2 separate regions of the Homo sapiens genome follow, and region 2 is linked to region 1. The links come from fine-mapping of genetic effects on gene expression. A gene starts in region 1. The other region holds a variant in brackets. All regions are shown on one strand. Distances are between the middles of the regions. Region 1 holds the start of PLXNA1 (plexin A1). Region 2 overlaps LINC02016 (long intergenic non-protein coding RNA 2016).

What was found. PIP is the estimated chance that this variant, and not a neighbour inherited with it, causes the effect.
Region 2: its variant is fine-mapped to the expression of PLXNA1 in lymphoblastoid cells (GEUVADIS, PIP 0.95).

What each region holds. Positions count from the first base shown.
Region 1 is chr3:126,980,391-126,985,758 of GRCh38, forward strand. PLXNA1 (plexin A1) reads left to right here and starts at 2,725. Exons shown (of 32, transcript NM_032242.4): 1 at 2,725-2,897. RefSeq lists enhancers at 1,481-1,530, 1,791-2,120 and silencers at 2,171-2,390, 2,491-2,720, 3,736-3,815.
Region 2 is chr3:127,319,881-127,325,248 of GRCh38, forward strand. It overlaps LINC02016 (long intergenic non-protein coding RNA 2016), which reads right to left. Exons shown (of 5, transcript NR_110147.1): 4 at 4,655-4,851; 5 at 2,427-2,847. Among named protein-coding and RNA genes, the nearest start is that of PRR20G, 35 kb to the left of the region's middle. The variant A/T (reference allele first, on the strand shown) is at 2,525.

The DNA of each region.
Region 1 (5,368 bases):
GGCACCGTGAGTACAGAGCAGGAAGCTCCTTGAGGAGTGTCTGCCTTGGGGCAAAAGGGCGGGAACAGGCAGACAGCAGGGACAGCCCCTGGTGCTGGTGACAGGTGGCGCAGACAAGAGCTGGTGAACATTCCCCGAGGTCAGCCATGGTGTCCACACTCACTGTGTCCCTCACCACAGCTCTGCAAGCTCTCACGTCCATTTCACAGATGAGGAAATCGAGGCTCGGAGAGCAGTCAGGACTTGCTCTGCCTTCACCAGCCATGAGGATGGATTTGCGCCCACACGTGTGCCTCGGTAGTCCGTGAGGAAAGAAAGCGCTCCAGTCTTGTTTGCCAGGGAAGGGAGGGGAAGTACAGCCCAGTGGCTGGGTCAAGACCACAGACTGGAGAAGCCAGACTCCTGGGATTAGCCTCCCAGCCCGGCCTCCTATCCACTGGGGAACTTGAGCACGTCTCCAGCCTCAGCCCACCCATCTGTAGAAGGTAGCAGAGCCAGCACTGTATTAGTGCTTGGGAAATAAAATAATAAATATAACTTTTGAGGAAGATGTTCTGCCTCATTCAGGGACATGTAAGTTAAAACCACAATGAGGCTGGGCATGGTGGCTCACACCTGTAATCCCAGCACTTTGGGAGGCCGAGGCGGGCAGATCACTTGAGGTCAGGAGTTTGAGACCGGCCTTGCCAACATGGCAAAACAAAAATTAGCTGGGCATGGTGGCACACGCCTGTAATGCCAGCTACTCGGGAAGCTGAGGTGGGAGGATCACTGGAACCCAGGAGGTGGAGGTTGCAGTGAGCTGAGATCGAGCCACTGCACTCCAGCCTGGGCGACACAGTAAGACTCAATGAGGCTGGGTGCCGTGTCTCATGCCTTTAATCACAACACTTTGAGAGGCTGTGGTGGGAGCATCACTTGAACCCAGGAGTTTGAGACCAGCTTGGGTAACATAGAGACCTCATCTCTTGAAAAAAAAAAATTAGCCAGGCATGGTGGTGCCCATCTGTAGTCCCAGCTACTCAGGAGGCTGAGGCAGGAGGATGGTTTGAGCCTAGGAGCTTGAGGTTACAGTGAGCTCTGATTGCACCACAACATCCCAGCTTGGGTGACAGAGCGAGACCCTGTCTGTCTCTAAAAAAAAAAAGCAGACAAGCAAAACCACCTAGTTGAAAAACCAGTTCATGCCACTAGATTTGCAAAACTAAAGAGTGCCAAATATTGGTGAGGATGTGGGACAGCCAGACCCTTCCACACTCCTGCTAAGCTGCTGGGAGTGTAAACTGGGGCTGTCACTTGGGAAGACGGTTTTGCTGTATCTCCTGAAGCTAGACAAATCCTACCCCGTGACCCTGCAGACCGTCCCTGGATCTAAAGGTGCCCACCGAGAGGCACACACAGGATGCTCATCACAGCTTTGCTCATCATGGCTCCAGATAGGCGACAATCCCATGTCCATCGGCAGGAGAATGGGCGAGCAGGAGCCCAACAAAACAGGCTGCGAAGACGATGCCTGCGAGCAGCTGCCCTGTGCCCTCACCACACAGAGCAGACAGAGCAAACAGCACAGGCTGAGTGACCCCGTTTCTGTAATGCCCAGAACAAGCCACCCAAAACAGCGTCCCATTCTGGGGTGCAAATATAAGAGGTCACACCCAAAGAAAAGCACTTAAAGATGAACACAAAAATGAGGGTTGTGGCTGCTCCTGGGGAGGGAGGAGCGGGGTGAGACGCGGAGGGACACCTGGGCCCGGTATGAGTCCATTCCCTTTCCCTGTTAACCATGTGAACTGTAGAGAGTTCCTCTTCTGTAGGGGTGACGTGATTCACACAGCAAAAACCGCACCCCTCAGGCTACAGATGGGGGCCAAGTCCCCAGCCGGGACTCAGCCCTCCCACGACGGGGTTTTCCTGGCCCATCTGCTCTGTTATCGATGCTCCTGTTGCCGGCTTCCCCTTCCTTGGCCTGGTTGCGTCCACCGGGAGGCCCTCCCGGATGCCTCCTGCCTGGGAGTGGCGGTTGTGAGTACAGTAACTGAGTGCTGGGTGTCTGCCCCTCAGCCTTGCCATGCAGGCTGGGGGTATTGCCTGGACAGCTCTGGCCCGTCACCCTGGATTCTGCAGCCCCACACCTCACACCGTGTAGATCCGCTGCCCCACGCTACAGCCGGAGTTCGCGTCTCGCCACGCCTCTGCCGCGGGACTTTCCTCCCTGGGCTGCGTCCCCAGCCGGGAATGCGCCACCAGCCTGGGGCCTGCAGGGGGCGCCCGGGCTCCCCGCGCAGGTGCCCGCCCATCTGACAGAGCGGAACGCGCGAGGCCGAGAGCTGGGAACACCCGGCCCCGCAAGGTCTGGGAACTGCGATTGCCTCCTTCAGCCTCAGTTTCCCCCCCCGTGAAAGGAGGCCATGCTCCTAGCCTGGGCACACTGAGCCAGGCCCTGTTCCTGGGGTCGCGGGCTAGCCCGCTCGAGAGCGGGGGGCTCCCGGAACTGCCCGCGCGGCCCCGGCGCCCAGAGAGTTGAGGCGGGCAGCCGTATCGCCCTTTGAAGACGCGCGGTGGGCCCCTGCAGGCGCGCGGCGCGGGGCAGAGCGCCCTCTGGAGGCCGCCGCCGGCCCCGCCCCCGCCCCGCCCCCGGGCTCTGGGCGGCGCATGCGCGCGGCGCGGGGCTCCGCGGGCGGCGAGAGCGAGGCCGGTCCGCAGCCGCGCGGCGCTCGGCGCCCCATTCATGCTGGGCATCGGCTGCGCGGCCACGCAGCGGAGCCCGGGCGCGGCGGCGGCCTCGGCCTGGGCGGCCTACGCGGCTTCGGCGGCCCCGCGGCGGGGCGGACGGCGGCGGCGGCGCGGGCGGCTGGGCGCGGCGATGGCCGGCGGCGGGGCGCGCCCCGGGGCGGCGGGTGAGTCGGGGCGCAACTTTCCCCGCGGCGCGGGACGGTGGGCGGGGGCCGGGCCGGGCTGGGGTCCGGGGCCGGGCGGCCCGTGGGTGGGCGCGGGGCGGCCTCCGGCGGCGGCCCTCTCGTGAGGCGGCAGGCAGGGGGTGTGCGCGGGGACTGCGGCGCGCGTGGGGACTGCGGCGCGCGTGTCCGCGGCCCGCGTGTCCCTGCGGCTCCGGCCCAGGCGTCCGCGTGTGTCCGGGCGCGGTCGCGGCGCCGACGCGGAGAGACCGCACCCCCGTGCGGCGGGGCTGGGACCGCGGCCCGGGATCCAGCGCCGCGGCCTCCCCCGCCCCCCGGCCGGGCCCGCCGAGCCCCGCGGCAGCTCCGGGGTGGCGGGGGGCGGGCGCTGCCCCTCCACGGAGGCTGGGGAGAAAGTTTGCGGCGGCCCCGCGGGGAGGCCCCTGCGGTGTCCAGGCCCGTCCCGGCCGCTGGACCTCGGCTCAGACCTCTGGCCGCGGGCGAGGACGGGGTGGCCAGGCCCGGATAGGGATCGGAGCCTCCCAGCAGGGCCGCGGGGGCCGGAGGAGGTCGTGCAGGCTAAGCCCCCGGCCGGCCCTGGGGCGCGGGGTGGAAGTTGGAGCGGCTTCCCGACCACAGCTGCCACCGCTCCCACTGGCCCGGAGTGCGGGGAGGTGGGCTCTGGGTGCCGCCCAGGAGGCCGCCCCGCTCGGGCCTCCTTGGCCTCCCCCTCTCGGGGCCTCTCCAGGGTCAGCCGCTTCTCCCGGAGGCTTCCGATTGCTTCCTGGATAGTCCCGGGCCTGATGTGCGGCGAAGCTGGAGGCAGCGGGCCGATCCCGGGCTGCCAGGGGAAGGGGGAGTGGGGACTCCAGGGAGGCCCCTCGGTCGGCGTGAGGTCCCAGGTGCAGCCCTGGAAAGGAGGGGAGGGGCTCCGAGGGGCGGCCCCGGGCGGCGATCTGCCCCAGGCTCCTGTGTGGGGTTCTGGGGCCACGCCCCTTGAAAGAAAGGGGTGTGTGTGCCGGGGAGGGGACGTGGTCGAGCCTCTGTCCCCTCAGCGCGGCTCCTGTGGCTCAGGCTGCTCCGTGCTGCCCCATCTCCTTTCACACGTAGCCGGTTTGGGGGTCGGTGCAGGGATGGGGCGCAGTTTCTGCTCCCCGGGCCCTTGAGGAGCTTGCCTCAGGTCCCCTCGATTTCCTGCGGCTTGGGGTGTGCGGCAGAGGCCAGGTGCTGCACCAGGGGCACCAAGATGCTGCCCGGCCCTTGAGGAGCACCCAGCCCCCTGCCAGAGGCAGGCATGTGAACCAGTGATTCGCTGCAGGGCCAGGCTTCCATTCCTGGGGGGTGCCAGTGGGGCCCAGGAAGGGCGTTTTGGGCAGAGGACAGCATGGGCGGAGGCCTGGGTTTGTGGCCTCAGTGTGTGCTCTGGGGGTGGGGGACACATGAGGTGCCTGTGGACAAAGCAGACAGCCCTTTGCTGGACTCCTGGCCCCCCAAGGTCGTTGCCTGCCTGTTTTGAGCCCCCAGGAAAGCCCCCGTGCACAGAGCAGCTTAGAGCAGCTGGCCGGGAGGAGCGGGTGCCCCAGGGGAAGGCCTGCAAAGGTAGGCACTTTTTCTCAGGAGCAGGACTCCAAGGCCTTCAGAGCCGGATCCCCTAGGACTGGTCGGGAGCAGAACCACTGGGACCACCTCCCATGACCCCCGTTGTGGGGGAGGCGGAGTGCCAGGAGCAGCTGTCTTCCCCCCCGGCTGCTGTTGTGAGCCACTGGGCAGGATGGCAGCCCCACACCCCAACCTGCCTGAGCCATAGCAGGATCTGGCGCAGGAGGACTTGGGGGGATTGGACTCTTCCTTGTGGGGAGGGCTTTGGGGGCCTTTGTTTCTCAGGGTGAGAAGGAGCTTTGGTGTCACTCAGGCCAGGAAAGGGAAGGGGACACTGTTGGCTTGGCGTTCCACCAGGCGGCGATCCCCTCCTGTCCAGGAGAGGAGCCCCTGGGCTGGGGCTCCTGCACGCAGACCGCGGGGTCTCTCTCCGCCTCTCTCTCCCTGGCTAGCCCCATCGGCATCCCAAGGCCAGTCTAGCCTCCCCTGCCCTGGCTCTGGCTCTGCCTCAGCCTAGAACAGCTCTGGCCATGCCGGAGAGCCACAGCCGTTCCTACTGCCCTCTGCACAGCCAGTGTTTCCCACCCCAGGCCTTTGCTCCTCCTGTTCTGCCCCCCACCCCCACCACGAATGCCCACCCTCCTGCACCAGCTCCCAGGCTACCTGGTCCTCTCTTGAGGCCTTTCCCCGGCCACAGTGGCCAGCTCTGCTCCTCGGTAGAGTGCAGCATCTGCCCATGCTCCCCTCCTAGCCCCGGCATGGGCCCCTGGCACCCTGGCACCTGGGCCCAGCTTTGGAATGAATGCATTTTTTCCTAGGCAGACCCAAGCCTATGAGAGTTGAGCCCTGCAGGCTGGCTGGCTGGTCCAGTCTCT
Region 2 (5,368 bases), 340 kb after region 1:
AACAACAACTACAACAACAACAACAACACATGATGCACAGGAGCAAGGTCTCCAAGGAAGCGGGGGCTTAGTGCCCCAGCAGAGTCATAGAGAGAGACAGCAGAATGGGGCAGGTTCAGATGTGTGATTCCTTGGAGCCTGGAGCCAGATACACCTGACCCTCTGTGAACAAAGATTATGCTTTGGGTTTTAAAGTTGGTATGTTACAGTATTTTGTTGTGCTTGCAGATACATTTTACATGGAAATGTGCATCTTACTATATTTCTAATATTAAGGAACTCAACACTTATACAGCTTGGTTTGGGTTCATTATCAAGGTGAATAAGCAGCTTTGCATAAACACTTTCCTACTACAAACATTTTAACAAATGCTTTTTTTAATAAACATTTTTAATCTTCAATGTTAATGTTACAAGTCAACACTTTTTGAAACTATTATGACAAAAATTTCAATATTACAGGAAAATGAATCTTCTTAGCAAACAGATGTACACAGAAACTCAACTTTCTGAAGGCAAGTCATAAAATAAGTATAGATTGAACTCAAATTTTATGGTAATTGGTATGCAAATATTCCCCAGTGTTCTCCTAATCCATCTAACAAGATGTAATGGCTAGCTTATTGCTTGTCTTCTCAAAGCATCTGTGTCAACAGACTCCCTTTTTTTTTTCAAGGTTCTTCATTAGCTGCTAGGCAAAGCCCATGTCTTCTGCTTCAGTTATATTTCCTAGCCAAGGCTGAATGAAAGAACATGGGCTTACTTATTTCTGCTTCTACAACTGGGATCTGAATATTTATGCCCACTGGGTGTGGGAGGCACCAGAACCTACGGGAGCTCTCCGTGGTGCTGGCCATGACATCAGCTGTGGGCCAAGCTGCCCTTCCTCTAGCCTTGATCTCACCTTGAATGCCCTTCATGACTCTAAGGCCAGCAATGATAGTGACTCAGATGCTGGCTTAATTGTCATGGTCTTGACCCCAGTCCTGGCCTTTGCCCTGTCCTGAACACTTCCTGTCCTTCCTTACTCTGAAGAACACTGATTGCCACTGTGCTCCTCCTAGACCCATTTACCCAGTCCATCCTATTCTGCCCACTTTTGCAGCCCCTCCCTGAAGGTTTACCAGAAGTTTCAGGGCTCCTCTATGACAGGTCCCCTCCAAGGGCCATTCTCTTTCCTTCTTTTTCAGACCGTTCCATCTTTTCATGTCCCATCAGCAAGTCGCTCCATTATTCCATGTCTTGGACCAGAGCCAAAGTCTGAGCTAATATTGTGTTGTGTCAATTCTGAGTCCCATGTCTGAGTCTCACCTCCCCAAATAAACTGGGTTCTTCAGACAGGGAACCCCTCCTCCTTGCATCCTCTTGCTGTGGTTGGCACAGAGCTGGGCACACTGGGGGCTCTGGCTGCACAGACTGATTGGATGATTGATGACTAATTGCTAACGGCTAATTCTAACCAGGTATGAGGAGCTGAACAGGGGCTGCCGTCTTCTCCGCCTTCCTCCACCTGCAGGAGTCTCTGTCTGTCTTGGGCATGGATCCTATGCTGCCGAGTGTGTAAATTAAGGAATAATAGAGCTGCAGAAGCATAAGCCCTCAATGATGGGGAATATGTTTGTCTGCTAAGAAGCAATTTCAGCGAAAATTAACTCCATTTCAACAGAAAGAGTGAGGCTTGGCATAAGCTGGCCAATCCCAGAGGACAATAAAATTACTTTGTCAAAGCTCTGCTTGCTTAAATTAACCAAGCGAGCACTCCAGGATCCTGGCTAGATACAGCAAGTAACTAGGTTTTAATGAACAAAAATAGCTTCTTGGATAAATGAGAAAAATAAACCACAGCCTACCTCTAGCACAAGTACACATGGTGGCTGTCTCAAGGACACTTCCCTCAAGGTTATGCATGGCCATGAGTATCCTGTACAGTTTAGAACCATCTACATGTTGGCATTGGCTGTGCATCCTTGGGACTTGTTCTTGGTCATTGATGTCCTATCCGCTCTGTCTACACTGGCTTTGCCCTTGAGAACTATGTTCTTGGCCATAGTGTCGTGGACAGTGAATCCTTTTTGGTTTTAGCCTCATGACTATGGACTGGCCACTCAGATCCTGGGAAACACTGGCCATTTCCCCCATGACTGTCTTCTTGGACAGCCACGTCCAGGACAATTGCCTGTCTTCATCTTGTCTTCTACATTGTGGCTTTAATCCATCCTGCCTGGTCAGCTGTGTTCTGGACAGCTGCTATACTGATTGTGCCATCCAGATCTATGACACTGGCTGGCTGTGCTTTGGCCTTAGATAGTTAAGTCCACCTGATTAGACTACTGATGACTGTGTCCTGACTGACCACATTTTGGAAAGTTGTCTATACAGATTGGTAAAACATCTGGTCAAGCCCCCTCTCCACGTTAAATTTTTTCTGGTTACTCATCTATATCAGTCAAGGTTCCACCAGAGAAGTAGAACTAGTAAGACGTGTGTGTGTGTGTGTGTGTGTGTGTGTGTGTGTGTGTGAGAG[A/T]GAGAGAGAGAGAGAGAGAGAGAGATGGAGAGAGGGAGATTGATTTATTAATACTAGGATATATTATTTATATGTATATTATTAAAGGATCATTAACACTAGGAGATTTATTACAAGCAATTGGCTTATGTGGCTATGAGGACTGGCTGGCAAATCTGGAATCCACAGGGAAGGACATCAGGAAGGGCAGGCTGGAAACTGCAGCAGGAACTGAAGCTGCTGTCTACAGGTAGAATTTCCCCTTCCTCAGAGAAACTTTGGCTCTGTTCTCAAGGCTTTCCACTGATTCGATGAGGCCTATGCAGCTCATTCGGGATCATCTCCTGTACATAAAGTCAACAGATTGCAGACGTTAACCACATCTACAAAACACCTCCCAGCAGCACCTGGGCCCATGTGTGACTGAATCACTGGGCACTCCATGTGAGAAGGGCTGCCACCGCTGGTCCCCTCGTTACAAAGGTGGGTCTCCTTACTGTTCACCTGAATAAGATAGAGTCTTCTTCTGACGCTTGGTAAGGCCAATTTCATCAGCCATGGTTGGAGGCGAGACCTGGGGTTTTGGTCAGCTCTGCTTCCTCCCTGACACACTCACTAAACATTGTCCATTGTCCATCTATACATGACTTTAGGGATGTTTGGTGCCGCTGTTGGCCAGCACCCTGGTCTCCAAGTGGAATTTTGTTAGTCTGAACTTTTCCTCCAGATATATCACATGGCTGTGTCCTACCCACACTTCTGGGGACAATTTAGAAAGGACATGGGCTATGTTCTTAGCAAGTCTCTGACACAGAAAGCCAAGCTTGCCTTCACGGCACAGCGACATTTGTATTTGTGGCTCTGATGCAGCGAATTCCATGGCCATAGAAGAATCTGAGTCTGTCCACTGCCTGCAGTTCCCTCCTGTCTTCCGTTCATTCATTCATTTGTTCATTCACTCATACAGTGAACACTGTCACACGGCCACCACAAGACAGGTCCTGCTCCAGGCCCGGGAGACCCAGCAGTGAACAGGGCACAGAAATGCCTGCTCTCAGGCTTCCATTCTCCCAGGGAGAGGGAGTTCACGAATGAATGAGATCTGTCTGGTGGTGAGAAATGTTGTGGAAAATCATAAAGCAGGGTTAGAAGGACAGAGGATACCTGGGGAATGGTCCCCCCATTAAGCAGGGTGGTTAGAGTACATCTCTAGAGAAGGGAACATTTCAACAAGAAGGGGAAGAAGACAAGAACCAAGTCATGCTGTTATGAGATAGGTGGGGGACATTCCAGCCAGAGTCCAAGGCCAGAAAATGCTTGGCATGGTCCAGGGACAGCGGGGCTGGGCCAGTTTAGAGTGCATGAAAGGGAAAGAGAGGGACAGCTGGGGAAGAGGAGGTCATAGAGGCAGCAGCAGACAGGGCTTGACAGTCACTGTGAGCCTGGCTCTGCTCTGAAGGAGACAGGAGCTATCAGAGCGTGCAGACACTGGGACGTGTCCCCTTCCGACAGAGCTGCTTAGTATCTGGTTGGGATTGCTGGCTGCTGAGGACCACAGCCAAGCTGTCCCCAGGCATCGCCCTCTGCTGAATGGAGCTGCCTCTATCAAGGCTCCCCCTTCCCTGGAAAGTGCAGGGCTGAAAGGCCCAGCCCCTTCCCCTCAATATGGGACATGTTCTAAGCCCACTCCAGCCCCAGAGCTCGGTGAGTTTGGCAGAGGCCCTCAGTGAGACTGCACTGCAGCCAGCTCCTCCTCTGTCCAATTCTCCGGCCTCCTGGGGAGGCTCCTGCCCACCATCAGGGAGGCTCCCCCACTCCCTGTGCTGCTTTCCATGCCAGGGGCACAGCACCCTGTGCTCTTAGAAGAATGCATTGATGTGGTCTTTAGTGTTTCCTGCACACCACTTCACCTGTGCTCTGTTCAGCACACATGTCTGAGTGACAGTGTGTGGCTACCCTTTTTCTTAGCTTAAGGACCAGTGCTGATCTCCCTGCTGTAGTATATTTCTGGGTGTTCATGCTGGATTCCCCCACTCCCAGAAGCAGATCCTTACTGGGACTGCCCCAGAATCGGGGTATCTCCCCAGTGGAGATTCCATTTACAGGTGGGATTGAAAACAGGAAATGACTGTCTGCACAATAAGGACTTACCATGTCCCCCACCTTCACTATGACCATAACTTGCACAGTACCCACTTCTTGGTGGAGAAAGTGCAGCTGTCAATCAAAAAGACAAGCAGGTTCTGATTAGAGACATGCCTGCAGCCCTCCACAGCCATTCCTGTGAACTGTCCTAGCAGGCCTCCAATATGCTGCTTCCACAGAGAAGTCTGTCTTGGAGGGAGTGCCTACAATATAAAACAACAGATCACATTAATAAGAAAACATAACCAACCAAATAGGAAAATGGCCAAAGGATATGAGTTTACTGAAAAGGATATAGATAGGCATCTGCCATAAAAAAAGATGCACAACCTTACTAGTAATCAAGGAAATGCAAATTAAATCAACGATGAGATATTGTTTTATTCACCTACATAACTGGCAAAAATTAGTTTGATAATCTCATGAGCTGTCAAGGTGGAAGGAAATTGGCTGTTCTCATGCCCTGTGAAAATGCATGTGTCTCAGGGCCCAGTAACTTCACTTCTGGTTTTGATTCCCCAGAGAACCCGTGGTGCCTAAGGAGGCACATCCAGGGATGTTGCAAGTGGACGCTGGAAATAAGGGCATTTCCGTCAACTGGGGAAGGGCTAACTAAGATGTTTTGTAATCACACAGTAGAATATTGCACAACAACAACAACAAAAAAAAAACACTTTATCTACCCATATCAACATGGAAGAATGTTTTTGAGGTCTGGAA